Regions from separate parts of the Homo sapiens genome. Here all the other regions are linked to region 1. The links come from fine-mapping of genetic effects on gene expression. A gene starts in region 1. Each other region holds a variant in brackets. All regions are shown on one strand. Distances are from middle to middle. Region 1 holds the start of SNX18 (sorting nexin 18). Region 2 has its middle 98 kb from the start of LINC02998. Region 3 has its middle 68 kb from the start of SNX18. Region 4 has its middle 77 kb from the start of SNX18. Region 5 has its middle 110 kb from the start of LINC02998. Region 6 has its middle 22 kb from the start of SNX18.

The links. PIP is the estimated chance that this variant, and not a neighbour inherited with it, causes the effect.
Region 2: its variant is fine-mapped to the expression of SNX18 in whole blood (TOPMed, PIP above 0.99).
Region 3: its variant is fine-mapped to the expression of SNX18 in whole blood (TOPMed, PIP 0.99).
Region 4: its variant is fine-mapped to the expression of SNX18 in whole blood (TOPMed, PIP above 0.99).
Region 5: its variant is fine-mapped to the expression of SNX18 in esophagus mucosa (GTEx, PIP above 0.99).
Region 6: its variant is fine-mapped to the expression of SNX18 in whole blood (INTERVAL, PIP above 0.99).

Annotation. Positions count from the first base shown.
Region 1 is chr5:54,515,641-54,520,538 of GRCh38, forward strand. SNX18 (sorting nexin 18) reads left to right here and starts at 2,119. Exons shown (of 2, transcript NM_001102575.2): 1 at 2,119-3,933. The coding sequence starts at 2,313. RefSeq lists silencers at 1,873-2,114, 1,995-2,554 and an enhancer at 3,027-3,971.
Region 2 is chr5:54,643,977-54,648,874 of GRCh38, forward strand. It overlaps a transcript of SNX18 not described here. Among named protein-coding and RNA genes, the nearest start is that of LINC02998, 98 kb to the right of the region's middle. The variant A/G (reference allele first, on the strand shown) is at 2,599.
Region 3 is chr5:54,583,272-54,588,169 of GRCh38, forward strand. It overlaps a transcript of SNX18 not described here. Among named protein-coding and RNA genes, the nearest start is that of SNX18, 68 kb to the left of the region's middle. The variant A/AT (reference allele first, on the strand shown) is at 2,387.
Region 4 is chr5:54,592,533-54,597,430 of GRCh38, forward strand. It overlaps a transcript of SNX18 not described here. Among named protein-coding and RNA genes, the nearest start is that of SNX18, 77 kb to the left of the region's middle. The variant C/T (reference allele first, on the strand shown) is at 2,065.
Region 5 is chr5:54,635,521-54,640,418 of GRCh38, forward strand. It overlaps a transcript of SNX18 not described here. Among named protein-coding and RNA genes, the nearest start is that of LINC02998, 110 kb to the right of the region's middle. RefSeq lists an enhancer at 3,992-4,566. The variant C/T (reference allele first, on the strand shown) is at 2,370.
Region 6 is chr5:54,493,059-54,497,956 of GRCh38, forward strand. No RefSeq gene overlaps it. Among named protein-coding and RNA genes, the nearest start is that of SNX18, 22 kb to the right of the region's middle. The variant G/A (reference allele first, on the strand shown) is at 2,192.

The DNA.
Region 1 (4,898 bases):
GCATATGGGTGGTTATAATGATTGTGTAAACTAAACTGTGAATAATATGCTCCATTTTCTAGAGAAATCTTTACAAAATGTGTTACTGTATCTATTTCCCTGAGTGAACAGTTATAGGTTGTTAATACTGGAGCACAATTTTCTACATATCTAAGACCCTCTAGAGGTAGGGGTTTTCCTGCCACTAGTGGCCATAGGGCCAAACATCATGACAGCCTGTCCTCATCCTTCTGGAAGCCTGATGCGCGGCAAGCACAGAGGCCTCCCACTGGACTCCTACAAAGTAAGCACCTGCAGACGCCCATGCCCCAGTGCTACAAACAACCTTGGACACCCAATAATTCCTCAACCACCATTTCTACAGAGTAGCTCAACCAGTCTGTAAAAAATCATCACCTTAAACTCCTGGAATTTTCACACCTGAAATAAGCCCAAAGTTACTGTACTTAACTCTAATCTAAAAAGTAACTACTAAACGAACAGAAGGGGCGAAACTAAATTTATTTATCTTACATATTCTAGGTTAGCTTTTCAGAAGTAAAATGAGTCATATTCTAGAGGTTTAGTTAATGTGGACTTCATGTTTCTGACCACATGAAATGTTGGCATTGAAATTCAATGATCCCTGTTGCTTACTGTGAGAATAGTCAAAACCCAGAATTTTCAGCTAAAAATGTAATTTAGAATATGCTTACTGAATTGAATTAAGGTTTTGCATTAGGATAAACACTGTGGGAGTGATTCTGGTATAGTGGGTTTGTGTTTTTGTGCAAGATGCTTACAATACCACAGCCCTTAGAATAATTGTACACTCTTCTGGCCCGTTTCCCAGGTTTCCTTGAAAAGGGTCAGAGGACAGGCTGAAATTAATGACACATGAATGCAGAACCTCAATTAGAAGTGTCTTCAAAGGAATAATTAGGCTAGACTTAATAAGAGGGGATTAAGAGAAGAAAAAGCTTTGGGCAAATTATACACTGAAGGAAAGGAAGATAGGAAACAAGGCAACGATAGATTGGAGCTGATTATTTCAGGAAGTGATTTTTGTTCTATTTATCTTAAAAATAATATAAATATAGTGAGACATAGAGACAACAGATGGATGGATGGTCACTGACCTCTTACTAGGAGTGGCAATGTGAACATTGGGACGCTTCCTGGTGCATGTACCCTGCAATTGTTAGTTTAGTACCCCTATTCCCTTTGTGAAAGAGGCCAGGGATTTTGCTTCCCCCAAATAACAGTAACAGCAGCAAAAGCAGCAACAAACCCTTCAAATCTGCTTACCCTGCCAGATATTGTTTCACTTTCCTCATCTGTAAAATAGGGATTACTTTATGATGGAATCCCCACAACAACCCCCGGAGGTAGGTACGATATAAGTGCCTTGTTCCAGGTCATACAGCTAGGTAGTGTCAGAACACAGATTGAAATTCAGAAGCCTGGCTCCGAAGTTTGAGCTCTCATTCACCGCACTACATATATCTATGGGAGGATAGGCGACACATGCATGTAATAAATGTGTGAGCATTTATTGTACTGGAAACTCTCCAGCTCCTCCCTCTCTACATGATCCTTTGCTTCTAATTTTGTCAATCACAGCACCTTCCCTGGCCCTTACTTTGTTCTTGCCAATCTCCTCTCCTTGAGCAGAAGAGGGAAGGGAGCCTGCTCTGTAGGTGAACAGCTCCTCCGCAGAGGCATCCTGTTTTCTTAGTGCAATCACTAATTCGCATTGCAAAATGCTTTATTACATGACTGGGTTGCCATTCTAGGAGCATTCACTGAGCGCTCAGAGTGGGAACGTTTATCAGGCATGCAAATGCTAACTTACTTTCTAGAGAATGTTTAACTTAAAAGCCTAAAGAAATCTCAGATAATTCACTTCGGAGTAGAAACCTCCTTCAGCCGCGCTCACTACGGCGCCCGGCTTCGCGGCACCGGCCACTAGAGGGCAGTGGCCGCCGCAAAGCCGACGCGGGCGGTGGGCTCGGCGGCTCGGCCATCGCTTGCTCTCGCCTGGCAAGGGGCTCTCGGCCGTGGATTAGCGCAGCTGGAGACGTGGGAGGCCGCGGGCCCCGCCCCCGACCGGCGGCGGCTGCGGCGGCCCAGCGCGGCAGTCGGCGCTGCGAAGTGGAGGCGCTGCGAGCGGAGCCGCGCGGAGGGCGCGACCGGCTGGTCCGGGCAGCGTGGGTTTGCCGCCTTCGGGGCTCCAGTCCGCGCGCCAGGGCTCGAGCAGTACCGCGGGCCCCTCAGGTGGGCCTCGGCTCGGGACGCCGGGAGTCGGGACCGCCAGTCGGGGCGCCGGGACCATGGCGCTGCGCGCCCGGGCGCTGTACGACTTCAGGTCGGAGAACCCAGGAGAGATCTCGCTGCGAGAGCACGAGGTGCTGAGCCTGTGCAGCGAGCAGGACATCGAGGGCTGGCTCGAGGGGGTCAACAGCCGCGGCGACCGCGGCCTCTTCCCGGCCTCCTATGTGCAGGTGATCCGCGCCCCCGAGCCTGGCCCGGCGGGAGACGGCGGCCCGGGCGCCCCGGCCCGCTACGCCAATGTGCCCCCCGGGGGCTTCGAGCCCCTGCCTGTCGCGCCCCCCGCCTCCTTCAAGCCGCCGCCTGACGCCTTCCAGGCGCTGCTGCAGCCACAGCAGGCGCCGCCTCCGAGCACCTTCCAGCCGCCCGGCGCGGGCTTCCCGTACGGCGGGGGCGCCCTGCAGCCGTCGCCTCAGCAGCTCTACGGCGGCTACCAGGCCAGCCAAGGCAGCGATGATGACTGGGACGACGAGTGGGACGACAGCTCCACGGTGGCGGACGAGCCGGGCGCTCTGGGCAGCGGAGCATACCCGGACCTCGACGGCTCGTCTTCGGCGGGTGTGGGCGCAGCCGGCCGCTACCGCCTGTCCACGCGCTCCGACCTGTCCCTGGGTTCCCGCGGCGGCTCGGTCCCCCCGCAGCACCACCCGTCGGGGCCCAAGAGCTCGGCCACCGTGAGCCGCAACCTCAATCGCTTCTCCACCTTCGTCAAGTCCGGCGGGGAGGCCTTCGTGCTGGGGGAGGCGTCAGGCTTCGTGAAGGACGGGGACAAGCTGTGCGTGGTGCTGGGGCCCTATGGCCCCGAGTGGCAGGAGAACCCCTACCCGTTCCAGTGCACCATCGACGACCCCACCAAGCAGACCAAGTTCAAGGGCATGAAGAGCTACATCTCCTACAAGCTGGTGCCCACGCACACGCAGGTGCCGGTGCATCGGCGCTACAAGCACTTCGACTGGCTGTACGCGCGCCTGGCGGAGAAGTTCCCGGTCATCTCCGTGCCCCACCTGCCCGAGAAGCAGGCCACCGGCCGCTTCGAGGAGGACTTCATCTCTAAGCGCAGGAAGGGCCTGATCTGGTGGATGAACCACATGGCCAGCCACCCAGTGCTGGCGCAGTGCGACGTCTTCCAGCACTTCCTGACGTGCCCCAGCAGCACCGACGAGAAAGCCTGGAAGCAGGGCAAGAGGAAGGCCGAGAAGGACGAGATGGTGGGCGCCAACTTCTTCCTGACCCTTAGCACGCCCCCCGCCGCTGCCCTTGACCTGCAGGAGGTGGAGAGCAAGATCGACGGCTTCAAGTGCTTCACCAAGAAGATGGACGACAGCGCGCTGCAGCTCAACCACACGGCCAACGAGTTCGCGCGCAAGCAGGTGACCGGCTTCAAAAAGGAGTATCAGAAGGTGGGCCAGTCCTTCCGCGGCCTCAGCCAGGCCTTTGAGCTGGACCAGCAGGCCTTCTCGGTGGGCCTGAACCAGGCTATCGCCTTCACCGGAGATGCCTATGACGCCATTGGCGAGCTCTTCGCGGAGCAGCCCAGGCAGGACCTGGATCCCGTCATGGACCTATTAGCGCTGTATCAGGGGCATCTGGCTAACTTCCCGGACATCATCCACGTTCAGAAAGGTAAAGCCTGGCCCTTAGAGCAGGTGATATGGAGTGTATTGTGCAGGCTGAAAGGGGCGACTTTGACAGCAGTACCACTGTGGGTTTCAGAATCATATTCTACAGGTGAGGAAGCGAGCAGAGACGTGGACGCCTGGGTCTTTTCCCTAGAGTGTAAGTTGGATTGCTCGACAGGCAGCTTCCTCCTCGAGTATCTTGCATTAGGGAATGAGTACTCTTTCTCGAAGGTTCAAAGAGTACCTTTGATGACAGTGCTATCATTTTAGAGTTTGAATAGTTGAGTAATGAGCTGCTCAAATCTGTAATCTTGAGACGAGGGTAGAATTAGAAGGGGACCTAAACCATGTTAGGTATCTGTTTGAACACTGCACTGTCACTTAGTGGTGAGTTTCAAAAAGTGAGGAAATAATGGAGAAGAACGGATGTCTGTAAATAGAAATCTGCTTTCACCCTTCCACACCTCTCAATCTCTGCTTTGGTAGAGGAATTAAGATCAATTCTCTGAGTTTAAGAAATTCCTGCAAAGAATTCTTGCCTGCAACCTTTACGAAGTGAAGTAATTTCAGGAAAAGCGTACTCATTTTGAGTTTGAAATCTATTAATGTACTGAAATTGAGAACGTTGTTTAGGAAAATTGTTTAGGGAAACTACATAGAATGAATATAATCTGAGTATTGGATCTGAGAGCAGCGTTGCTGGTATCCCAGTGAGTTAGCTGTCCAACTATCAGAGTTCATGAGTTATTAATAGTTGTTAGTGTCTCTGACCTTTGCTAAAGCACCAGAATTTGCAAATTAAAAAAATATATAGCAGTAGTGCTTGTCTTAACATTTCTTACTAATGTGCATTCTCATATAATGCCTTGATTGAGAGAATGGGGAGGTGTGGGAGTTAGGGAGGCAGTCTTGCCTGTGAAAGTCCAGTGTAGGGGCGGCTGGGCAGGGAAACCTACTCCTGAGCAGGGA
Region 2 (4,898 bases), 130 kb after region 1:
CTGTTACTCAAGGAATGAACTGATTGGCACCAAGCAAGAAGAACAGCACATCTCTTTGGACTCATTCCCTTATTTATAAGCCATAACCTTAGGGACAATAAGCTAGAGACCCTGCCAGCATCCTTGAGCCAGGATCTCATCTGTTGTCACAGTAGCCATGTTTCCCTGGCATCCGAGAGCCCAAGGATGCAAATAAGGCCTGGGCCAAACTAAGCTCTGACAATTAATGTTATTCCAAAGAGGCAGCAGCGAGGGTAGGAAGTTCTGGTCCCCTCATCTTACTTCAAGTTTCACAGCCAAGAGTGATGATAGCTTTAGTCAGTAAGTACAGTCAAGGAGCCTATGAGACAGAACTTGTCACAAAGACAGCTGATGTTTCGCATGGACCTTAACAGAGTAACTGGTGTCTCTTCAGGAATGGGGCACAATCCAGAGGTTACTAACCACGGGTGAGTAACAGGTGATCCACAACAATCTCATCTGACTCATAGTAGAGATTGCTGGCATCTACCCAGCATTCATTCCCCCTCTTCCTAAGAGAAACTCAATTCGTTGTAATCAGCAACATATTCCCAACAGGAAAATCACATTTCAAGCCTTCCTTTAGATAGGTGACTACATTTTGGCCAGTGAGATAGGAGTGAAAGTTGTCAGATGGGCTCCTCCTGACAACTCCTTTAGAAGGGGCTGACCCAGCTGTCAGCCATTTGCCCTGGTGTGTCCTCCTCTCTACTGACTACAATATAGGTGTGATGGCTAGAGTAGCAGCTGCTATCTTGGGACAAGGGGAGACCTTGGGGTAAACAGAACCTAGGATAGTAAAGCAGAAAGATAGAAGAGCCTGGGCTGATGATGATGTGGCAGAACTGCCAAACAAGCTCTGGACTGCTAATCTCTGGACTTAACTTTCAGGAAACAAAATTAAACTCTATCTGGCTCAAGCCACTCTTACTTTATGGACCAAGAGCATTGGCAGCACTTGGGAGCTTGTTAGAAAGGCAGCTTCTCAGGCCCCTTCCCAGGCCAAATGAGTGACGATCGGCTTTGTAGCAAGATCCACAGGTGATTTGCATGCACAGTAAAGTTTGGGAAGCACTGCTCCAGATGTAGTTAGTTTCTCTGTTTATGAAATTATTAACTGATATATCCTGGGAAATAATGAATTCTATTTGCCGGTACTAAAACATGGTAAGAATGATATAACCATAGGATAAAACAACTAAAATGCCCTGAGTTATTTGGATACAAAGAAAGAAAGCATTCATGTCAATTAGGTAATTGATGTTCCAGCCACTATACCTGGCACCAGAGAAGTAAAGATATCCCTGCTCTAGACTCCATGGTCTAACAAGGGAGACATATAGATACTGTGTATTGTGTTGCATTGCATTATAAGAACCGTTTGGATGCAATAAGAGCTATGCCCAGGTGTTCCGGGAAAACAGATGAGGGGTCTAAGCCTTCCCTCCTGGGCTAGGGAGTAAGTTAGAGAAAACTTCTTGGAAGAGATGTCACCTGAGTAGTTAAGAATTATCTTGCTTCTTCCCCCAGTTTCAGGGATCAGAGGCCATCCTTTGTGGGCTTAAGTCAGCCTGCTGGCCTCCCCAGCTGCTCCTTAAATTCTAAGAGTTGGCATAAAAGACACAGGTTACAACACGAATGTCTTCATCCTACACGATCTTTACTTTCTCTGTTCACAATGTGGGCTCCTTGGCTCCATTTTACATATACAGGAAATTTGGACACCGAATAGAGAGTGAATTTCAAAGGATTCAGAGAAGGCAAACCCATATGAGTGTTTAGAGTTCATTGATCACTAGTATCTTCTTAATTTTGTGAACACCGGGTTCTGAATTCCTTCATTGACTAGCTATTTCTCTTCATGTCTTCTACAAACATTCTGAAGTTGGAAATCCTTTTTATTGGTGTTTAGAATAAGTCAATGTTTTTCCTCTCTTTATATTTCTACTTGATATTCCTCAGTTTTCTGTATTATTAAAAATGAAATCACATTTTTGGATACTTGTGGTTTGGCCGGCTGGTTGGGAAACTTTTCTGGCATTCATTATTGCTTTTTTCTTTCCATTTAAAGAACATTTACTGGATTTGGTACTTGGCGAAAGAAACTGACAAATTAAGAAATGAGAGAGAGAATAAATGCACTGTGCATGCTGAAACCCCAAGAAGACTTTTTTTCTCCTACTTTTTATGGACCTGAGGTGTTGGAAATGGAAACATTGTTTCAAACAAAATCCAGATTTTTATCTCTCTCCCCAAGAGATATGGCTTTAATCTTTTTTCTTTTCTTCTGCTGCTTTTCTGAAACACTCTGCTAGGGGCTGATTTCCTCTTCTTTGAAACAGACCAAAATATCCCTGTGGGTGAAAAACATGCCGGAAGTGAAACAGAAAGACTCAGCTTGCCCCGTGTTCGTGGTCTGTCAACTTCTCTAGCCAGTGCCTGGATCCACAGCTCACTGCTGCCGGTTGCCCTGCGTTAGCCGCATTGCGGGGGAGACAGGAGAGGCTTGAAGGCTTTTTATATTCTACTCTCTTCTGAAGAATTCACAAGTTAGCAAGCACTCAACCACTACTAACC[A/G]GAAGGTATTGCCAACCATAACAAACTACACCCATCAACAAGGCCTCCCTCATATTGCAATCCCAGCAGAAAATGATGCAGGAAAAGCACTCCCCAAATCTTGGTTGCCTGCCACCCAAGTTCTTATGCCAAGATATGTGTTTAGCCAGTTCTAAGATGCTGCCACCTTTTCATGTGTCCAACACTAGGCTTTCTACCATAGTTCCCTCCACCCAGAATGTGTTACTTGGCTCCTACAAATGCAAGAGGAAGTGCCCTTCCCTGAACAGAAATCAAAACACAGGGTGAAACCACGACTTGTTTTCAACAGGCCTCCTGTTGTGAGCCCTCCCAGCTGTGCTGCCTTTCTCCAAGAGAGCTGGGACTGGCGGCTCGAAGCGGTATAAATGGCCTGTGCCTCTTCCTGAGGCTGCCTGTAACAAGTGTCTCAAGAGCAATTCGTCATCGGCTGGAGATTACCAACTTGGCTCACTGAACCAGATCGTGCTTTGTCACATGTGAAATTCTGATGTTCTAATACATGGCTTGTTTGCAAACTACGCCTTAAATAAATATATTCAGGATATTTAACAATATAGTGTTCTGAATTAGACCATCATTTACATCTGTATTTATTCAATAATCATTTACTAAGTGCCAAATACATGCCGAGTACTATGCCGAGTGCAACAGTTAAAACGCAGGAAAAAGATCGTATTGCCCTTACTGGGCTATAAATTCAAATCTCTGTCTCATCTCATCAAGCAATCTTTCCGCCTTGGCCTCCCAAAGTGCTGGAATTATAGGCATGAACCACCACACCTGACCCAGGAGAGTTTTCTTTAACGAGTGATGCTTGATCTCAGTTTTGAAAAGTATAGAGGTGTTCACCTAGAGGAGAGGAAAGAACAGAGCATTCTGGAAAGAGGACTGTGGAGCAAAGGCAAAGAGATATTACATAGCCTGGCATGGTTTGGGAACTATAAGCAGTTGAAGTTGGTAGTGAATGGGGCATGAGAGGAAGGGGAGGTAGGCAGAGGCATGATCGTAGAGAACCCTGTATTCCAATCCAAGAATCAAAGTCATCATCCTGAAGGCTGTGGGGGCAATATTGAGGAGATTCCCAGAAAATGAGTGATATTTACTTGTCTTCATGACAGCAAATTGAACAGCAGGGGTTGAAAACAGGGGAAGGCTAAGTAGCAGATCATTGCAATAGACCAGAAAAATGAAGGCTTGAAACTTCAACGGGCAACAGGGATGAAGAGTTGAGAACAGATTTGAGAGAAGTGAAAGGAGTAGGATCTGCAGAACTTGGAGACTGACCGGATTCTGGAAGATTAAGGAGATGGAGATGTCAAGGGTGAATGGTTCCCAGTTTATTATTTAGGAACCCGAAGGAATGCTGGTGTGTGCGGAATTGGTGGGTTCTTGGTCTCACTGACTTCAAAAATGAAACCACGGACCCTCGCGAAGAGTATTACAGTTTTTTTAAAAAAAAAAAAAAAAAGACGGAGTCTCGCTCTTTAGACCAGGCCGGACTGCAGTGGCCCTATCTCGGCTCACTGCAAGCTCCGCCTCCTGGGTTCATGCCATTCTCCTGCCTCAGCCTCCCAAGTAGCTGAGATTACAGGCCCCCGCCACCGTGCCCAGCTAATTTTTTGTATTTTTAGTAGAGACAGGGTTTTACCGTGTTAGCCAGGATGGTCTCGATATCCTGACCTCGTGATCCACCCGCCTTGGCCTCCCAAAGTGCTGGGATTACATGTTACAGTTCTTAAAGGCGTCGTGTCCAGAGTTTGTTCCTTCTGATATTCGGATGTGTTCAGAGTTTCTTCCTTCTGGTGGATTCCTGGTCTCGCAAGCTCAGGAGTGAAGCTGCAGACCTTCCCGGTGAGTGTTACAGCTCTTAAGTCGGAGAGTCTGGAGTTGTTCATTCCTCCGGGTGGGTTCATGGTCTCGCTGGCTTCAGGAGTGAAGCTGCAGACCTTCCCTGTGAGTGTTACAGCTCATAAGGGGAATGTGGACCCAAAGAGTGAGCACCAGCAAAATTTATTGCAGAGCGAAAGAACAAAGCTTCCACAGTATGGAAGGTGACGGGTTGTCACTGCTGGCTCGGGCAGCCTGCGTTTGGTCTCTTATCTGGCCCCACCCACATCCTGCTGATTGGTCCACTTTACAGAGAGCTGATTGGTCTGTTTTACAGAGAGCCGATTGGTCCGTTTTGACAGGGTGCTGATTGGTTCATTTACAATCCCTGAGCCAGACACAAAAGTGAGTGCTGATTGGTGCATTTACAAACCTTGAGCTAGATAGAGTGC
Region 3 (4,898 bases), 68 kb after region 1:
TGGCCTTGCTAGACTTCTTATTTCCTAAAAGCAAGCTTCCTTCTGAGAACATAGTATTTGACAAACACCTACTGAATGAAAACATTGAGCATGGAAGTTGGGCTCATTTCAGATCTGGCTCTGGGTCTTCCCTTCACTACAAGAAGAGCTCAGGCTCAGTGTGACCCAGGCCTTGCTATCTGGAGAAGCTGTGTCATGATAAAGTCAGTCACTTGTTATTGACAGCCACGAGTGGCAGTGGACATTCTGGTTAAGAACAAAGGCCTTGGGGTCAGCAAACCTGGGCCCAGATTTTACTTTTCCCACCTATTAGTCGTGTGGCATTGGACAAGTTATTTTACCAATGCTTAGCTTCCTTATGTATAAAATGAAGATCAAAATAGTACCTACCACTTAGCATGTTTTGGAGAAATAAAATAAGATATGTAGAACCATATGCCCCACTTCCCCAGCTGGGTATGTAAGTAATGTAATTTTCCCAGATTAGGAAATTCATAATCCTGTCCCTTCTTTGTGGACCCCCTTCCAGGGTCCAGCCTGGATACCCAGAAGTGCTTATTTGGTCTCAAGGGTCAGTCCTAGATCTTCTCACCCTGCCGGGTGTTCCAGGCTCCCCAGATGCCCTCTGCTGTAATGACATTGCTGCCAGAGCCTGATGGTGCTGCTACACCTGCTGCAGCTTGGCGAGCCACAGCAGAGCCCTTGACACTGACTGCCTTGCAGTGGCTCCTCAGGCCAGGAGGGAGGCTGTTTCTGGGTTGCCAGTGTGTAGCTCTTTTTTTTTTTTTTTTTTTTTTGAGACGGAGTCTTGCTGTGTTGCCCAGGCTGGAGTGCAGTGGCACAATCTCAGCTCATTGTAACCTCCGCTTCCTGGGTTCAAGCAATTATTCTGCCTCAGCCTCTCAAGTAGCTGGGACTACAGGCATGTGCCAGCACATCTGGTTAATTTTTTATATTTTAGTAGAGATGGGTTTCACCATGTTGCAGGCTGGTCTCAAACTCCTGAGCTCAGGCAGTCCGCGTGCCTCAGCCTCCAAAAGTGCTAGGGTTACAGGTGTGAGCCACTGCGTCCAGGCACCAGTGTGTAGCTTTTTAATAGAACTTCCCATGGCTGCTTGGGTTTACTTTGGGTTAAAAGCAATAATAAATTCATATATTACCCCCAATGTGCTTATGGAGACTAATGGGGAGGACACTTCAGCTAAAAGTGTGATCTGGCCTAAGGTAAAAACGTTTCAATCAGGTATTTGCATAGGTGGAGTGTGGCCTTGTTGTTCGAAAAGATTAATAATGACAAGCCAGGTGTCTATGCACTGAAGGCCTATGGGAGATGGTTCTGAATACAAAAAAATATGAACAACAACAACAACCATTTGTCTCTATCTTGCTTAAATGCAGGTAGGGGAATAATTATAGATTACATGGCATTTAGGCACAATGTTTATTTTCCTTAAGATTGGGGTTTGTGTGTGTATTGCAATCCTTGACCACCAGAAGAATGAGGAGGCATAGCTTTGCCTCACACAGATGGCTGGTCTTGGAAGAAGACCAAACCTGGAGTACCAAGACCTCTTCCGAGCTGTCCTGTGGAAATGCCTCAGTGTTATCCTAGACTGAATCTCCTGGACAGACAGGCCATGCTGGTTGGCCAACACACGTATTTTAACTATGTGGCCGACGTGTTTGCCACTCACTCTGTGGTTAAAATGTAAACAGAAGGTCAAAAGGTAGGATCACAGGCCAGGCATGATGGCTCACGCCTGTAATCCCAGCACTTTGGGAGGCTGAGGCAGGAGGATCATTTGAGTCCAGGAGTTTGAGACCAGCCAGGGCAACATAGCAAGATCCCATCTCTACAATAAATTTTTAAGTCAGCCAGGCCTAGTGGCATGCACCTGTAGTCCCCACTACTCAGGAGGCTGAGGTGGGAAGATTGCTTGAGCTTGGGAGTTCAAGGCTGCAGTGAGTTGTTACCATGCTCCTGCACTCCAGCCTGGGTGACAGAGTGAGACTCTGTCCCAAAAAGAAAAAAAAAAAAAAAACAGAGTAATATCACAATGTACATATCCCGACAAACTCCCTGCTTTCTGCTTACGAGGAGGAATTGGCAACACAGAATCATGCAGCAGGAAGAATCCATGGTTATACTTATAAAGCAGCCTTTTGAATTGGGTGGGTGGGGTGGGTTGAGAGTCACAGAGGCCTGGTTCCAGCCTGCTGGTCTTCTGTCACACTGACTTCTGCGATCTTGAATGAAGGGACATGGGACTTCCCCTGAGTTAGATGACCAGTGTGACTGATTTGCTGGGCCCAGCTTGTGTGGATTGGTAGGATGGAGTCAGAGTGAGAGCAAATTGTACAGTAAGGTGGTGACTGTAGCAGGAGG[A/AT]TAAAAAAAGAGCCCTGGCTGATGAAGCGCCTTCCAACAGAGGTGGCTTAAATACTCCTTCCCCGGCCGGGCGCGGTGGCTCACGCCTGTAATCCCAGCACTTTGGGAGGCCGAGGCGGGCGGATCACGAGGTCAGGAGATCGAGACCATCCTGGCTAACATGGTGAAACCCCGTCTCTACTAAAAATACAAAAAAAAATAGCTGTACATGGTGGCGGGTGCCTGTAGTCCCAGCTACTAGGAAGGCTGAGGCAGGAGAATGGCATGAACCTGGGAGGCGGAGCTTGCAGTGAGCTGAGATCGTGCCACTGCACTCCAGCCTGGGCGACGGAGCGAGACTCCGTCTCAAAAAAAAAAAAAAAAATACTCCTTCCCCAGCAACACTGTCAGTAACACACAGCTGTATATTTCCACAGGCCAAGGGAAGTCTAACCCCTGTGGAAAGAAGGTGGGTTTTTCCTAAAGGTAAACCTTCCTAAGGGAAAAATGGAGAAGAATGGCCCTCAAGACAGGAAGCAGAATTAGGGATTGGGTGTGAATTATGTAAATTTTGTTTTCCTTTACCTTGGACTCTGGAAATGGCCCAATTTAGTGCCAGGTTTTAAGTTTTTCTCCTGTGTATTATATCCTCTAGCCACCAAGTCCTTCACTAGCAACTATTTACATCTGCAGCCTGGCGTGATGATGCCGTGGGGAAATGAGGGACAGAGCAGAGCTGGCCATGGGGGCTATATTAGTCCATTTTCTGCTGCTATAAGAGAATACTGCAGAGTAGGTAATTTAAAAAGAAAAAAAAATGTTGATTTGACTCATGGTTCTAGAGGCTGGAAAGTCCAAGAACATGGCACTGGCATCTGGCAAGGGTCACCCCATGACAGAGGGGCAGAAGGAATATGAGCGTGCAAGACACGGATTAAATCAAGCTGAACTCATTGTTTAATGAAAACCCCACTTCTGTGATAACTAACCCATTAATAACAGCATTAATCCATTCATGAGCGCGGAGCCCTTATGGCCTAATCACTTCTTAAAGGTCCTACCTCTTAATACTATCACAATGGCAATTGAATTTCAACATGAGTTTTAGAGGAGACATTCAGACCATACATAGTAGGATCATAGCTTGCTCCATGTCACCCTGCTATGAAGCCAGCAGCAAAGTCAGGGCAAGCCAAGGATGGAAGGAGCCCATGATACAGAGGAGAGTGGCCTGACTCATGAACAGGCATTTGTATATAAATATAGATATGTCTCACAAATACAGCAGAGGAAGGAACCCTTGCTGGAGAAAGAGGTGAGCACTCTGTAAGGTTAATGGGAATTTATTTCCTTTTTTTTTTTTTTTCCTGAGCAGCCCCTCTTTTAGGGAGGAAGTCTATTACTCCAAACTCCTGATGGCAGAGTTAAAGCCTCACAGGTCTGAACAGATATTCCCCTGGGATATTCAGCTTTTGGGGAACAGCCAGCTCAACAGTGAACCTCTAATCTCATGGCAAATTATTTAAATCTGAGAATCCATTCAAGTCTTATTTTGAGTACCCTAGTCCATCCAATATCTTTTAATAATTTTGTATCTCAAAAAAAGAAGGGAATTGTCCTTACGTAAAAGTTGGTATGTAAACAAAAGGTTATAAACAGGTTGGTATGTAAACAAGTGGTTTTCTGTAAACAAGTGGTTATTTATATCCTATTAAGTACTATATACATCAACAGTATATAAATAATAGTCCCTGGCCAAGGCAAAGACATAATCTATTGCGTCTTCTGCTGGAAAAGAGAATTGCTCTTACCAGAATAAAGGACTGTGCTCCAAAGGTGAATTAATGTTTTCATCTCTATAGACTAAAAACTTGTCAATAACTTCCAAAAGCAAAAAACTCCTTAATGTCCTTTCTCTCCGTGGTGCCCAATTACTTGCACCTGCACACGGCATGCACTCATTGTTGGTGCTGCCAGTGTTCCAATCCCTTCTACTGAACCCTGCAATGCTCTCAGAGCCTGCTGCTCTTCTTTAGTTCACTTGGCAGTTAATATGATGTTGAAAACACCACCATTCATTAAGAGTGGAGGGGTACAGCACCATTGCTTTCAATTCAGATGGTCTGTGGTAGAGACTACAAGTGGTCACCTATTTCCATTCTTTCACTTTTGTGCACAGCACCAAAATCCCCAATATTTTTTAAGGCACGTGGCCATCAAGGATACAGTGTGACTGTCTGTGCTTCCCTTGCAGTTAGATGTGGGCATAAGATGACATCCTGGACAATGGATTGTGAACGAATGTGATGAGGCCATCTGCCAGGTTGTGTCCATGAGAGGAAGGTGTACACCCCTTTTGCCCTTTCTCCTTTCATAGAAGGAGGACAAGTTGCGGAAGAAGCCAATCTTCTAGGGAATCCAAGCAACCCAATCAAGGAAATCTGGATTTCTGACACCAGTACTCAGTGGCAGAAGTTCCCAAACACTCTCGTTTCATAGTATAGTGTCGCCATAATTTTTTCATATTGACTCT
Region 4 (4,898 bases), 77 kb after region 1:
GATCGTGAAGCTTAATGAACAAAACATGACTAAATTAACTTGTGGTCAGTCAACAATTCAATCCGAGGACACTGACACTGTCTCCCACAATTGGCTTGACTGTAACAGGGCAATGCATGAATAACATAGGGAGACTGAGCTTTGCCTTTGGATAAATGTTCTACACTTGCCAACATAGGAGAGCAGTGGATTTTCAATGTAAGATGATAATGACGTGGGTTTGTTCTCATTTCTGCCTCTTGCTGAGTCCTTACCCTAGAAAAATCACAATTCTGTTTTTGTTTTTGAGATGGAGTCTCACTCTGTCATCTAGGCTGGAGTGCAGTGGAGCAATCTCAGCTCACTGCAACCTCCACCTCCCAGGTTCAAGCGATTCTCATGCCTCAGCCTCCCAAGTAGCTGGGATTATAGGCGTGTGCCACCACACCTTGCTAATTTTTGTATTTTTAGTAGAGACCGGGTTTCATCATGTTGGCCAGGCTGGTCTCAAACCCCTGACCTCATGTGATCCACACGCCTCAGCCTCCCAAAGTACTGGGATTACAGGCATGAGCCACTATGCCTGGCCCCACAAATATATTATTGATAGTCGGCTGCTCTATGAAAAAAATTCTAAGGGATCTACCTTCAGGAATATAGGTAAGTGAAAGTTGCAATTTTCTCTGGAAGGAATTTTAATTGTAGACATTTTAATTTACATTAAATCATTAATATATTTTCCTGTAACTCACTGTATAAGAAATCTTTCCTTCAGAACCTAATGGGGCTCAAAAGTAAAAATAAAAGTAAAAAGTCTTTCTTGACTGATCCTGGAGATTGGAGTGGGGAGAAACTACAGCAAGTTAAGAATAGAGTCTGGGCCTTAATAAATTGACAGATATACCATGTTCATAGATTGGAAGATTGAAGATTGAATATTGTTAAGACATTAATTATCCACAAAATGATCTATAGATCCAACTCATTACCTGTCAAAATCTCAGCAGTATTTTTTGTAGAAATTGATGATCATGTTCTAAAGTGTATATGAAAATACAAAGAACCTGGAAGAGCCAAAACAAATTTGAGAAAGATGAACGAACTTGGAACACTTATATGACCCGATTTCTAGACTTAAAGCTACAGTAATCCACAGAGTGTGGTGTTGGTGAAAGGATAGACATATAGACTACTGAAAAAACTATTCTTAACCTGGGCCCATTCATATATTGCTAACTGATTTTGACAGAGGTGCTAAGGTAATTCCATGGGGAAGGTATAGTCCTCTCAACAAATGGTGTAGAAACAATTGGATATCTACATAGGAAAAAAATGAATTTCAGTCTTCATCTATTATGGAAAACTCAACTTGAAATGGATCATAGACCTAATGATAAGAGTTAAAACTATAAAACTTAAAGAAAAGATAAGAAATCCTTGTGATCTTGGGTAGACAAACATTTCCTAGAGAGGCAACAGAGGCATGAGCTATAAAACAGATAATTGCCATAAAAGAGCCATAAAAATAAATGATAAGTAAATTGTTTCATGTTCATACAAAGCAACCCTACTCAGCATTACCAAGGAATAAACTGCTGATACATGCAACAATATGGTAATCTCAAAAGCACAATACTAAGTGAAAGATGCCAAATGCAAAAGATTACAGGCTATATTATTTCATTTGTATGAAATTTTAGAAAAAGCAAAACTTTAGTGTTAGAAAGCAGATCAGTCTTTGCATGGAGCCAGGGCAAGTGTCTAACTGCAAAGGGACATAAGGAAACTTTTGGAAAATATGCCTTGTGGTGCTGATTGTGTGACCATATGCATTTGTCAAAACTCATGAGACTGTACCCTTATGTGCAGAAAAGAGTTAACACAGCCAATCTGAGGTTGCTATTCTTAGAAAGGCCTGCTTGGAAGGTTGGCTCTTGGATGGTGTCTGGGAACTTGGATTTTTGGAGTCTTCTCACTGTTCTCTAACTTATGAGGGTGGTTTGCTGTGTCTAGACTGTTTATGCAAATAATGTGCTTTATGCTAAACATCTGCTTTCCTTCTGGAAGTTCTGGAATTTTGGTACA[C/T]GTTAGGCAAAGGTGCCTATGTAAATAGCCCCCAGTTAAAACCTTGAGACTGAGTCTTTAATGGGCTCTCTGGGGAGAAAATTCACCCAAATTGTATTTTAAAAATACAATTTCAACTTCTATTTTAGATTCAGGGGTATTACGTGATGCTAAGTTTTGGGGTACGATTGATCCTATCACCCAGGTAGTGAGCATAATACTCAATAGTTTTTAACTCTCACCCTTCTCCCTCCCTCTCCTTCTAGTAATCCCTAGTGTCTATTGTTGCCATCTTTATGTCCATGAATACCCAATGTTTAGCTCCGTCTTATAAATGAGCACATGCAGTATTTGGTTTTCTTTTCCTGCATTAATTCACTTAGGATAATGGCCTCCAGATGCATCTATGTTGCTGCAAAGGACATTATTTCATTCTTTATGTTTGTGTAGTATTCTGTGGTGTATATATACTACATTTTCTTCATTTAATCCACTGTTGATGGGCACCTAGGTTGATTCCATGTCTTTGCTATTATGAATAGTGCTACAATAAACATACAAATATATGTGTCTTTTTTGATTAAACAATTTGTTTTCTTTTGGGTATATACCCAGTAATGGGATTGCTAGGCTGAATGATAGCTCTGCTTTAATTTAATTAATTTATTTTTATTTTTTGAGATGGAGTCTCGCTCTGTCACTCAGGCTAGAGTGCAGTGGCACAATCTCAGCTCACTGTAACCTCTGCCTCTCAGGTTCAAGAGATTCTCCTGCCTCAGCCTCCTGAGCAGCTGGGACTACAGGCACGCGCCACCATGCCCAGCTAATTTTTTGTATTTTTAGTAGAGACAGGGTTTCACCATATTGGCCAGGCTGGTCTCCAACTCCTGACCTCATGATCCACCCGCCTCAGCCTCCCAAAGTGCTGGGATTATAGGTGTGAGCCACCGCGCCTAGCCTGCTTTAAGTTCTTTCAGAAATCTCCAAACTACTTTCCACAGTGGCTAAACTAATTTACATTCCCACTGACAGTGTATAACATTCCCTTCTCTCTGCAGCCTCACCAGCACCTGTTGTTTTTTTGACTTTTTAATAATAACCATTCCAATGGGACACACGTTGTATTGGTGTCTTAGGGCTGCTGTAACAAATTGTCACAAACTAGGTGGCTTAAAACAGATTTATTCTCTCACAATTTTGGAGGCCAAAAGTCTGAAATAAAGATATTGGTAGGGCTGAACTCCCTTCAGAGGCTTTAGGAGAGATTCCATTCCTTGCCTCTTCCAACTTCTGGTGGTTTCCCAGGCATGTGACTGCATCATTCCTATCTCTGTCTCCATAGTCACATTTCCTCCTCCTTTTCTCTGTGCCTGTCTCTCCCCTGTGTTTCATTTATAAGGAAAGCCTTGGGATCCCTCTGGCCCTTTCCTCCCTCCCAAATCTCTTCTTGGCTACTAGGCTGGCCTTGTGGTCAGAGTGGGTGTCAACCACCAGCTGGAAAGACCTCTGATCTCCAGAGTCCCTTGTCATTTCCAGATAATGCCAACAGCATTGCTACTGGAGAGAACCATTCCAGAGTCTTGGTCTTCCCCTTTTAAAATGCAAATATCTGTGACAAAGCGGATAAAATTATGTGTAGAGTATAACGCTTTTCTTATGATGTTATTTGAAAAAGGAATTGTATAATATAACACAAATGAGCTTATGGTGGTGTCCTCCCGTCTGAGGGCCAGCACTATAGCTCTCCCCACCATCTCTACCAAAACAGACTCTTTGGGAATAATGAGAGCATCCTGATGGAGGAAAAGGGGCCTAGGAGAGGCTGAGGCTTTTAAAAAGGCCTTCATCTACATTGGGCATTTGTTCAGCATTCGCCTGCTTTGCTAATTTGGTTGCTGCATGCCCACTTTGGGACAAGAAGGAAAGCACTCTTCTCCAATACATCAACTAGATGATTAATAAATGAAGAAGTGAAGTTCATACTCATTGCTAGCTCTGGTACCATAGCAGCAGAGGCCATCTGTAGCAGCATGTTCCACTTTAGGGGTTAGATGACCTAGATTCTATGACCTTCCACAGCCACCAACTGGCTGTTCTGTACCCTTAGCAAGTCACATTCTGCTTAGATCTCAATTTTCTTATCTGTCCATGAGACAGATAGCACCTACTCTATCCTCTCTATAGATTTTTACAGCATTGCAGCCATCAGAATGAGGGAACCTGCAGTAGGAATGGATGTGCCCCTTTCCCCTCCCTTTCTTACATTGGTTCCCTGGGCAGTGTGTACTTGGGTATTGGTTAGTATCTGGGACTGGTGACCAGAGAGGTCTCTCGACCAGATGCAGATGAGTGGATCAAAAAAGGATGTACTGACACGAAGTGGCAAGCTGGATAAAGAGTCAAAATCCAGCGGTGTGTTATATTCAAGAGACCCATCTCACATGCAAGGGCACACATTGACTCAAAATAAAAGGATGGAAGAAAATTTACCAAGCAAATGGGAAACAGCAAAAAGCAGGGGTTGCAATCCTAGTTTCTGACAAAATAGACTTTAAATCAACAAAGATCAAAAGAGACAAAGAAGGGCATTACATATTGGTAAAGCGGAGCTAACTATCCTAAATATATATGCACCCAATACAGGAGCACCCAGATTCATAAAACAAGTTCTTAGAGACCTACAAAGAAACTCAGACTCCCACACAATAATAGTGGGAGACTTTAACACTCCACTGTCAATATTAGATAGAACATCGAGACAGAAAATTAACAAAGATATTCAGGACTTGAACTCAGCCCTGGGCCAAGTTGACCTGATAGATATCTACACCTACAGATCTTTCCACCCCAGAAGG
Region 5 (4,898 bases), 120 kb after region 1:
CTTGCTGTTTGCCTTGTTTTATTTTATTAAAGTGACCTCATCATGTTGGTCCCAGCAGGTCAATCAATTGCCCCATTGATTTCAGGAATGGAAAATAATGGCCGTCTATGGGCTGGAGGTAGCATATGTAGTGGATGCTGTGGTCTCAGCAGAGATCTTTCAGGACGAGGTACTCATATACCAACTATGGGGAGAGTTGGCTGACTTCAGGTACAACCTGTGTACAGGGCCCCATGCTCAGAGGGCCTCGCACTTGATTTAATGCTCTGCTGCTGCCATCTTGAAATTTGTAATACTTTTTGAACATTGGCTTCAACATTTTCTTTTTGCACTGGGCCCTACAAATTATGTATTCAGTCCTGATGACCACACTCACGGGGAAACCTACCTAGAGCATCATGTGCAGTGGAAACCTGAGATGTTCCCTGAGCTCATCAGGAGTGACTGTTTTGATGTGTTGGCTCTGCCTACCATGGATGTGGGAAGAGGTGAGGGGCAATGGGGATGCTAAATGCTTCCCATCACTGGCTGACTGGGGCAAACACCAGCTTAGGAGAAAGGCTTAGCTGGGTGCTCCAATCCTCTGGGCCCACTCACGTCTTTGTTCTGGTCTAAGAGATGCTAGACTCTAGCCTTCCTAAGCTTCTGAAGCTTTCCATGATGCTCAGTCAGGGGCATCCACTCTTCTCCTTCCCTTTCCCCATCAGGCCCATTCAGAAGTGGGCCTGAACGGGGATGAGGCCCTCTAAGTCTACTGATATCACTTTTTCATTTTCACAACCCAACAATACTTTACCTGCTTAAACAATGAAGCACATGACATTTTGATGAAGTCTTCCTGGTGCAACTTTTTTTTTTATCTCTGGAGCATTTTGCTATGGGGAGAAAAATCAAGCAATAAAATCTTCAGTGAAAAAAAAAATTGAGTTGTATGCATAACGGAAACATCACCTCATCTCTTCTGTTCTCTTTTAATAGCACTTTTGCAAAACTACCCAGTAAACCTGTACGTTGTTCATGCCTGAGCCATGCTCAACCTCTATACCTTTCCCCAGCCCCTACTCTGCTTTTTGCCCCAAACCTGCCTCTTTCCACAACTACAATTTCTATTCCTAGAGTTGCATCAAAAATGAGTAAGGAAAAAAGAAAACTGCTTATTACTGCTAAGTGGAATGTTCATCTAAACAGAAAATGCACCCAATTTTAAATTAGTAAAAATAATTGCTAACATGCATATAACACTTGAAAGAATACCTGGCACAGATATTAAGCACTTTAGAACTCACTTACTCCTCACAGTGTGTTGCAGCACAAAGAAGTTAAATGAATTTCCTAATATTACTTTACAGTGAAAGTGGATGGGGCCAGGATTCAAAACCAGTTTGCCTGTATTCTTTCTTAACCACTATGCCATCTCCACATGTGTCCTCAAGTCAAATGGTGAGGACTTCATCAAATATGTTATTTTTTTACCTTAAATATAAAGTTTAAGAGACTAATGAGGCAATAGCCAAATAGACAACTTGGTCAAAGTTTGCACATTGACAAATGCAAATTCTAGTTCAGTGTGGAACAGTGGATGTGTGACAATTGGTAAATGAATTTTATTTGTTCAGTCTTGAAAAGACCAAGAATACAAGCAGAACATGTAAAGGGGAGAGCCATCATAAAAGTGCTTAAATGTATCAGAATGGAGAGAAGAATTTTGCGACTTTGCACCTGAAAAAGGAATACAAACACAGAACTACTTCCAAATATCTGAAATAAATCTCCTATAATTTTCTTATGAATTAATCATAAATAAAATATTATCTTTCAACCTTTTGTACATTTTGAATAACTGTTACCATAATTCATTTTCATCAAATATCCTTTGGCGTGAGAAAAGTGGATTTTCAGATATTTTATTAGTGTCAATTTTATCAAAGAAATTTTCTAATAATATAGATTTTGCCAGCTGGTACCAACAAGGAGGAATGAAGTGGTGGTGGGGTGGGGTAGGCTAGGTTCAGGGACAGGGAGTGGAAAGAGGGGCGCTAGAAAAGATAATAAAAATAGTACATACTAGGTAACAGGTTTCAACAAAAATGATAATTGAGGAGACACGCCAGAGTGGTGTGAGGGTCAAAACAGGGCAGTTGACATTACCTGATAATTTATTTTTTAAGCTCTGTGTTAAAACAGTTGTGTCAAAATGGCCTCTTGGTAATCCCCTGCATAACAACTCCGTGGGGTGAGATGTGTGAAATGCCTGGGATGGTGCCGGGCCCTCTGGAGGGGCCATACTCTACATGACCTTGCAAACGGCTTCTCTTTCACAGCTTTCCAGAAGAGCAAACCTAAGTCAGAGTAGAGAGGCTTGTTCCAAC[C/T]AGCTCTAGGCTTTCGCCTTCACGCAGCAGGAAACCCGGGCTGCTCTCCAGCTTCTCCAAGACTTCACCCAGCTTTCAAACTCAAACTGCTGGACTGGAGAGAGAGAGAGAGAGAGAGAGAGAGAACATTTTCTCCAATTTCAAAATCTCTGTACAAAACTCATGTAATTGTTCAGTAGTCACCAAGGTGCGGGCTCCCATCATTCCTTTTGGAATTCATTCCCCATTTATATTCTAACTCTACATGAAGCTTTCTTTAACAATGGCTGCTGCATAGATAGTATGTTGACTTTAATAACTTAAAAATAGCTGCCACGGTGCATTTTTAGATATAGTTAATGGTACTTTCTGAGAATCTGTGGTTTTTGAAAGATAGTGATCTTCCCCCCAACCCCAGTCCACAGATATGTGAAGCTAAAAAATAAAAAGGGGGAGGGACTTGGAGACAGATATCCTGAGCGTATGCTATGTTTTTCTGACACCTCTGAGTTTTATAAACTTAGAGAACCATTCTTGGATCCTTAGTTTTTGTATCTATAAAATGGATGTCACACTATGCCTCATCTTTAAATGAAACTTGAGACAGCTGAATAATAGCAGATTACATTTAAAAAAATTTTTTGGTGAAGAATTTTTATTTTAAGAGGGCTTGGTATCTTCTTTGTTGTTTGTTTTTTATTTGTCATTTCCTGACATAGGGTATTGGTATCTAAAAGGATGGCTCATGAGGAAAAAATATAGACCAATGACTGGCACTGACTGCTAATATTTATTGCATATGTACAAATATTTTACATGTATCACTTCATTTTAGCCTCATAACAATCTTACAAGATATGTATTTTTATTATCTACCTGTATAGATAAAGAAAACAAGCATAGAGAGAGTTGAGCCACCCGCTTGCCTAAGGTCAGCCAGGAGAAATGGTAGAAGCTGGATCTGAGCCCTGGCCACACCCCTCCAGGGCCCGACCTCAAGACCTCATAACATCATCCTTTGAAGGCCTGAGGTGGGACCCTTCCCACCTCCACTCCATGGGCCAGCTACTAGAGCAGTAATTCTGCTCAGACATAAGGTCTCTTTTAAAATATTATTTACTTTTTATTCATTCTATAGGCCTCACTTTAGATTGGATTTATCTCAATAGAGAGGAATACAAATGTGGATAAAAATCATGTCTACATATTGAAAACTTCATTAGAAATAAACATTTTAATGTTCTGCCATGAGTTTCCTAACTTAGTCCTTTTGAGGCTGACAGTAAAAATTTGCCTTCAGAGGTAACAGTGGGTAGGCCACCGAATGCTCTCCCAATCAGAGAACTTATAGTTTATAACCAGCAATCTAGGGACATGAGCATTTTAAAATTCCAGTTTTTTTGAAGGTGTATCATGTTTTAAAAAAAAATTTTTCAGAAAAAGCAATGCATTAGAATCCATACATGTATTTGTAGAATGTATGGAGTGGCTATTCTTAATTGTGGCTGATCACAATAGCTGGCATATCATAGGGGATCAGTAAATACATTTCAAATGAACAGATGGACAAATGAACTTGGTAAAGCCAATGTCACTTCCAGTTCTTGCCAAAATAATATTATCTAATATTTATTGATAGCTGATTATATGCCAAGTATAGTCTAAATGTATAAAATGCCCTCACTCATTTAACTCTCAAACAATGCTAGGAGGTAAGGACTATTTTTAATCTTTATTTTTCACGAGAATCTTGAGGACCAGAAATAGTAACTTGCTCAAAGTAAGTTACGCACCCAAAATTCAGACTTGGGTCCTATGGCCTGAGTCTATGCTGGAAGCAAAAGGGACAAGCTTTGTCTTGAAGAAACAAAGCTTATCTAGGCCTGAATAAGCTACGCTCAAGCGTACTCAGAGAAGCGATTTGCAGATTTTCTGAAGGGGCCTCCTGGGGTTAAGTGATTAGGCTGACCAAGGAGGTTATGCAAGGGCATTATGTATCAGCAAAAGCCAGGTGGGCAATGAGTGAAAGTAAGCTGTGGGCCCACGCACTATAAGGAAAGGACTAAAAGAATCATCAGTTCCTGAGGCCAATGGAGATGGCACTCCATTGTAAGGATTCTGTTGGGGATCCAGTTAGAAATATTCTTTGATAAGTGAATGAGACTGAACATACGGGGATTATGGACCTCAATTTTCAACATCTAACTTCAGTGTGGTGTCCAATATCTTATCCCCTGGCAGAATGGGCAAAGGGTCAGAGAAGCCTAACCTCAAATACCTCCTTAAGCTACAAGGACCATGACATGGGGGAATAAAGTTCATCACTGTCTAGAAATAGATTCTTTTTTTTTTTTTCTTTTGTAAGACAAGGTTTCACTCTCATCACCCAGACTGGAGTGCGGTAGCTCTATCTCGGCTCACTGCAACCTCCATCTCCCAGGCTCAAGCGACTTTCCTGCTTTATCCTCCCAAGTAGCTGGGACTACAGGTATGTGCCACCACACCTGGCTAATTTTTGTACTTTCTTTTTTTTAAAAAAAAGATGGGGTT
Region 6 (4,898 bases), 23 kb before region 1:
AGAATATGGCAAAGTTGATGAGATGTGTGATATGATTTTATATATATATATATATATATATAAAGCATGAAAGTCATAGTTTCTGGCTGATAACTCCCATAGCCCTCTTGTTATAGCCTTTTTGGCTATAACAAGACATTGGCTGGGGCATTTTAGGCCTCAGGAACAGGCCTCAGGAAACAATCTCTCTCTGTCTCTCTGAACTTCTTTCCTCCTTTCACCTGTCCAAGGCAAGTCAAAAGACCCTCATTCCAGAAAGCGTGCCCCATACTCTGAAGGAAGCAATGCTGCACAGAGGCCAGGAAGAATCTCAACAGTGGGTCTTACTGGGTTTCCCCGCTCAGCCTATTTGTATGCAGTCATACCCTTTTCGTCCAATCACATTTCTGCACTGTTGTCAATCATGCCTATGTAATGAATTCTCTTTTAAAACACAAGAGGGCCGGGCACGGTGGCTCATGCCTGTAATCCCAGCATTTTAGGAGGCCAAGGCAGGTGAATCGCTTAAGCCCAGGAGTTCAAGACCAGCCTAGGCAACAGGTGGAACCTGGTCCTACAAAAATTACCAAAAAATAGCCAGATGTTGGTGGCGGGCTCCTGTAAGTCCTAACTACTTGGGAGGCTGAGGTGGGAGGATTGCTTAAGCCCAGGAGGTCGAGGTTGCAGTGAGCCATAGTTGTACCACTGCACTCCAGCCTTGGTGACAGAGTGAGACCCTGTCTCAAAAAACAACCCCACAACCGTTCCCCGCCAACAACTCCACCACACACAAGAGGACAGGGTTCAGAGAGCTTCTGAAGAGGTGACCACGTGGAGGTTCCTGGAGGGTGGTATACCTGGAGACGGCCTTCAAGCTTTGTACCCCTTCCCCTATACCTTGCCCTACACACTTCATCTATATCCTTTGTAATATCCTTTATAATAAATGAGTAAATGCAAGTAAGTGTTTCCCCGAGTTCCGTGAGCCACTCTAGAAAATTAATTGAATCCTGCTGGACTCAGTGGCTCACGACTGTAATCCCAGCACTTTGGGAGGCCAAGGTGGATGGATAACCTGAAGTTAGGCATTAGGGACCAGCCTGGCCAACATTGTGCAATCCCCTCTCTAATAAAAATACAAAAAGTAGCTGGGCATGGTAGTATGCCCCTGCAATCCCTGCTACTTGGGAGGCTGAGGCAGGAGAATCGCTTGAACCTGGGAGGCGGAGGTTGAAGTGAGCTGAGGTCGGGCCACTGCACTCCAGCCTGGGTGACAGTGCGAGGCTCCATCTTAAAAAAAAAAAAAAAGAAAAAGAAAATTAATTGAAACCAAAGAGGGGGTTGTGGGAACCCCAACTTAAATCTGGTCAGCCAGAAGTTCCAGACACTTGGACTGGCGATTGGTGGGACTGAGCCCTCAACCTGTGGGATCTGACACAATCTCCAGGTAGACAATGTCAGAACTGAATTGGAGGACACTCAGCTGGTGTCCACTGCAGAATCTATTGTTTACTTGCTGGTGGAGAGAAATCCCCACATATTTCGGGGTCATAGAAGTCTTCTGTGTTTATTGTGTTGATATGAGTAGAGGAGTTTGGCTTGAGAGATTTTTCCAAACAGGATATCATTCCCTTGATCAATTTCATTATAGAAGACTGTCTAAAGTAACTAGAGAGACTTTCTTGCTGCTAATTTTTGTACTTTTTGTAAAGACAGCTCTCACTGTGTTGCCCAGGCTGGCTCCTGCTCTTGAGTGATCCTCCCACCTCAGCCTCCCAAAGTGCTGGGCTAACAGGCATGAGCCACTGTGCCCTGCCCTTGCTGGCTTGTTGTTTGGGGCTGCCATCAGCTCCTAGAAGCCACCCACAGTTCCTTGCCACATGACCCTCTCACAACATGGCAGTTCCTATCTTCAAAGCCAGCAAGAAAGTCTCTCTAGCATACCCAGCAAGAATGTATAGGGCTGTTCAGGGCTCACAGTAGATTACCTTTCTCAACAGATGGAGTAGGGGGTGACTTAAAGTGTGCATAATCTTTAAAAATTAGCATTTTCCATTTGTACTCTCTAAATTTGGGTTAGCTGGATCCAAACCCCATGATTCTGCTACATATGGGATCCCAGTCCACCTATCTCTAGCATACTTCCTCTATTAATCATTCTCTCTTGACATTTGCCACCTCATTTTAGCCAGCTGTGCTTGTTTTCACTTAT[G/A]TTATTTTATGAGCAGTGCTTATTTTGACAGCAGCATACATAGTGGAATGATGGCTGGTTCTGGCATTTAAAAAGCTGGATTCACATTCAAGCTCTACCATTTGCCAAATAAGAAACCAATACTCCCATCAGCCAACTCAAGTAGTAAAGTTGGAATAGCATAGTGCCTTTGATTTTTTCCCTTACAGGGGTGTAGTAGTGAAGGGTATGTAACTCAAAATAATCTTCTTGAAAGTCAAGCTTCTCCTCCTTTCCCCAAAACTTGTTCCCCACCTGAATTCTCTACTTGTTACAGTCACCATTCATCCATCCCGACCTCCTCCTCTTCATACCTTTGCATCAAGGCTTGCCAGTTTTACCTTCTAAGCATTGTTCTTCTGCCCTTTTCTTGACCTCCCAACTGCCATTGTCTATCTTTATCATGTGTCAATCCAGTAGTTCCCTGAAGTAGCTTCTAGCATCATGCTGGCCACCATTCTATGATGTCTTACTACTGCCTGAGCTTGTCATTTCTCTCATTTCAAACACCTTTCATCCTCATACAGTCCAATTTCCTTACACATGTTTTTGCCTTAATTCCTTCTACATCTCACCTTGTGTTGTTTTACACTGTAATATTACTTATTTCTTGTATTTCCTAATATCCACCATGGCATTTAACATTTTTTGTGTCTTTGATGCTCTTCCTACCTGGAATACCAATCCTGTTTTTGACTAATTCCAACTCATTTAAAAATTTTGATCAGCATGGGACATGGTGGCTCATGCCTGTAATCCCAGCACTCTGGAATGCTGAGGCAGGAAGATCAACTGGAGACCAGCCTGGCAACATGGCATGACCCCCATCTCTACACAAAATTTTTTTTTTTTTGAGACAATGTCTCGCTCTGTTTCCCAGACTGGAGTGCAGTGGTGAGATCTCAGCTTACTGCAACCGTCACCTCCTGGGTTCAAGCGATTCTCCTGCCTCAACCTCCCAAGCAGCTAGGATTACAGGCATGCGCCACCACGCCCAGCTAATTTTTGTATTTTTAGTAGAGACGGTGTTTTACCATGTTAGCCAGGGTGGTCTCGAACTCCTGACCTCATGTGATCCACCTGCCTCGGCCTCCCAGAGTGCTGGGATTACAGGTGTGAGCCACCATGCCTGGCCACAATTTTTTTTTTTTTTTTTAATTAGCCAGGCATGGTGGTGCACACCTGTAGTCCAAGCCAGCTGGGAGGCTGAGGTGGGAGTGTTACCAGGATGTGTGGAGTCCTCTGTTCTTAGTCTTCTTGGGAGAAGAAATTTGGCCAAGAGACCAATTAGTAAAGTAAACAAAGACATATTAAGGAAATAAGAATATGCTCCAAGAGAGGAGTGGGCTGACCCTGCTGGGAGCAGTAGTAGTAGCAGTCTGTTTAAAGAGATAGTATGCTCTGAAAGAAAAGTCAGAGTGGGCTGCTGGAAAGAGAATGAGCCAGCAGCCCCTAGGGTTCTGCATTGAGATTTTTGTTATGTTGGGACTGTTTCTTTAAGTTCCCACCTCTGTCTCAAGTCTCCACCTCTATCTTTATCTAGCTTCCCCCTTCTGCATTAAGTCCCTGCTTTTTTCCTGCCTAGTTCCTGCTCTAGGTTTATGGGATTCTCCTTTACTGGTAGTTAAGGCACATGCAAGGACTGGTGTTGGGTACAATCCTAATGGCAGCTTTGCTTATTACCCTCTAGCGTTGCCCTCTAGGAAGGTCATATAGCAGTTATATGTGTACATATTACCCCTGCATATCTCTCAGACTCTTAGAAATTTCCCCTTTGCCCTTTTTTTTTTTTTTGAGACAGAGTCTCAATTGTGCAGGCTGGAGTGCAGTGGCATGATCTCGGCTCACTGCAACCTCTGCCTCCCAGGCTCAAGCCATTGACCTGCCTCAACCTCCTGAGTAGCTGGAATTACAGGCACTTGCCACCATGCCCAGCTAATTTTTGCATTTTTAGTAGAGACAGGGTTTCACCATGTTGGCCAGGCTGGTCTTGAACTCCTGAACTCAGGTGATCCACCCACCTCGGCCTCCCAAAGTTCTGGGATTACAGGCGTGATCCACTGTGCCCAGCCATCCCCTCCTTATCAGCATGTGGCTAGCTCCATTCTGACCGATTAGCTGCAGCGTGAGTGATTACTGGGCATCTTAAGAGTTGTTCTGAGGTGTTTCTTCGTGCACAGGTATTTTCCCTCCTTTATGCTCATATCTAGCATGCAGATTTCCAGTGGTCTCTGAGGTGTGAGATTTTCCAGACCTCCCTTTCTTCAGGCTCCCCCTCCTGCTCATGTCTAGGTATCTGCCTGCTGTAACAGGAGAACTGCTTGGGCCCAGGAGTTCAGGCTGCAGTGAGCCATATTTTGGGGTGAAATTCCCTGTGCTCCCTCAGTATGTCCACATAATGGGATATTATGTTGCTATAAAAAATGAGAACACTCTATTAATTGGGTCCAGGACAAGTCACGCCAAAATATGACTTTAGGAGACCAGAATATGCCAGGCCAAAATATGTCTCTTTAACATAAGGATTATTTTGAGCTGTTATTTTGAGAAATTGTAGACACAGTAGAGGCTCTGAAAAGTTATCCTGTGTGAGAGAAATTTACATCTATCAAAGAAATCTCCATTTGTGAGACTGTGTCCCTGTCTACACCAGGAAGAGGAGGACACTAGATCACTAGACTCTTAATCA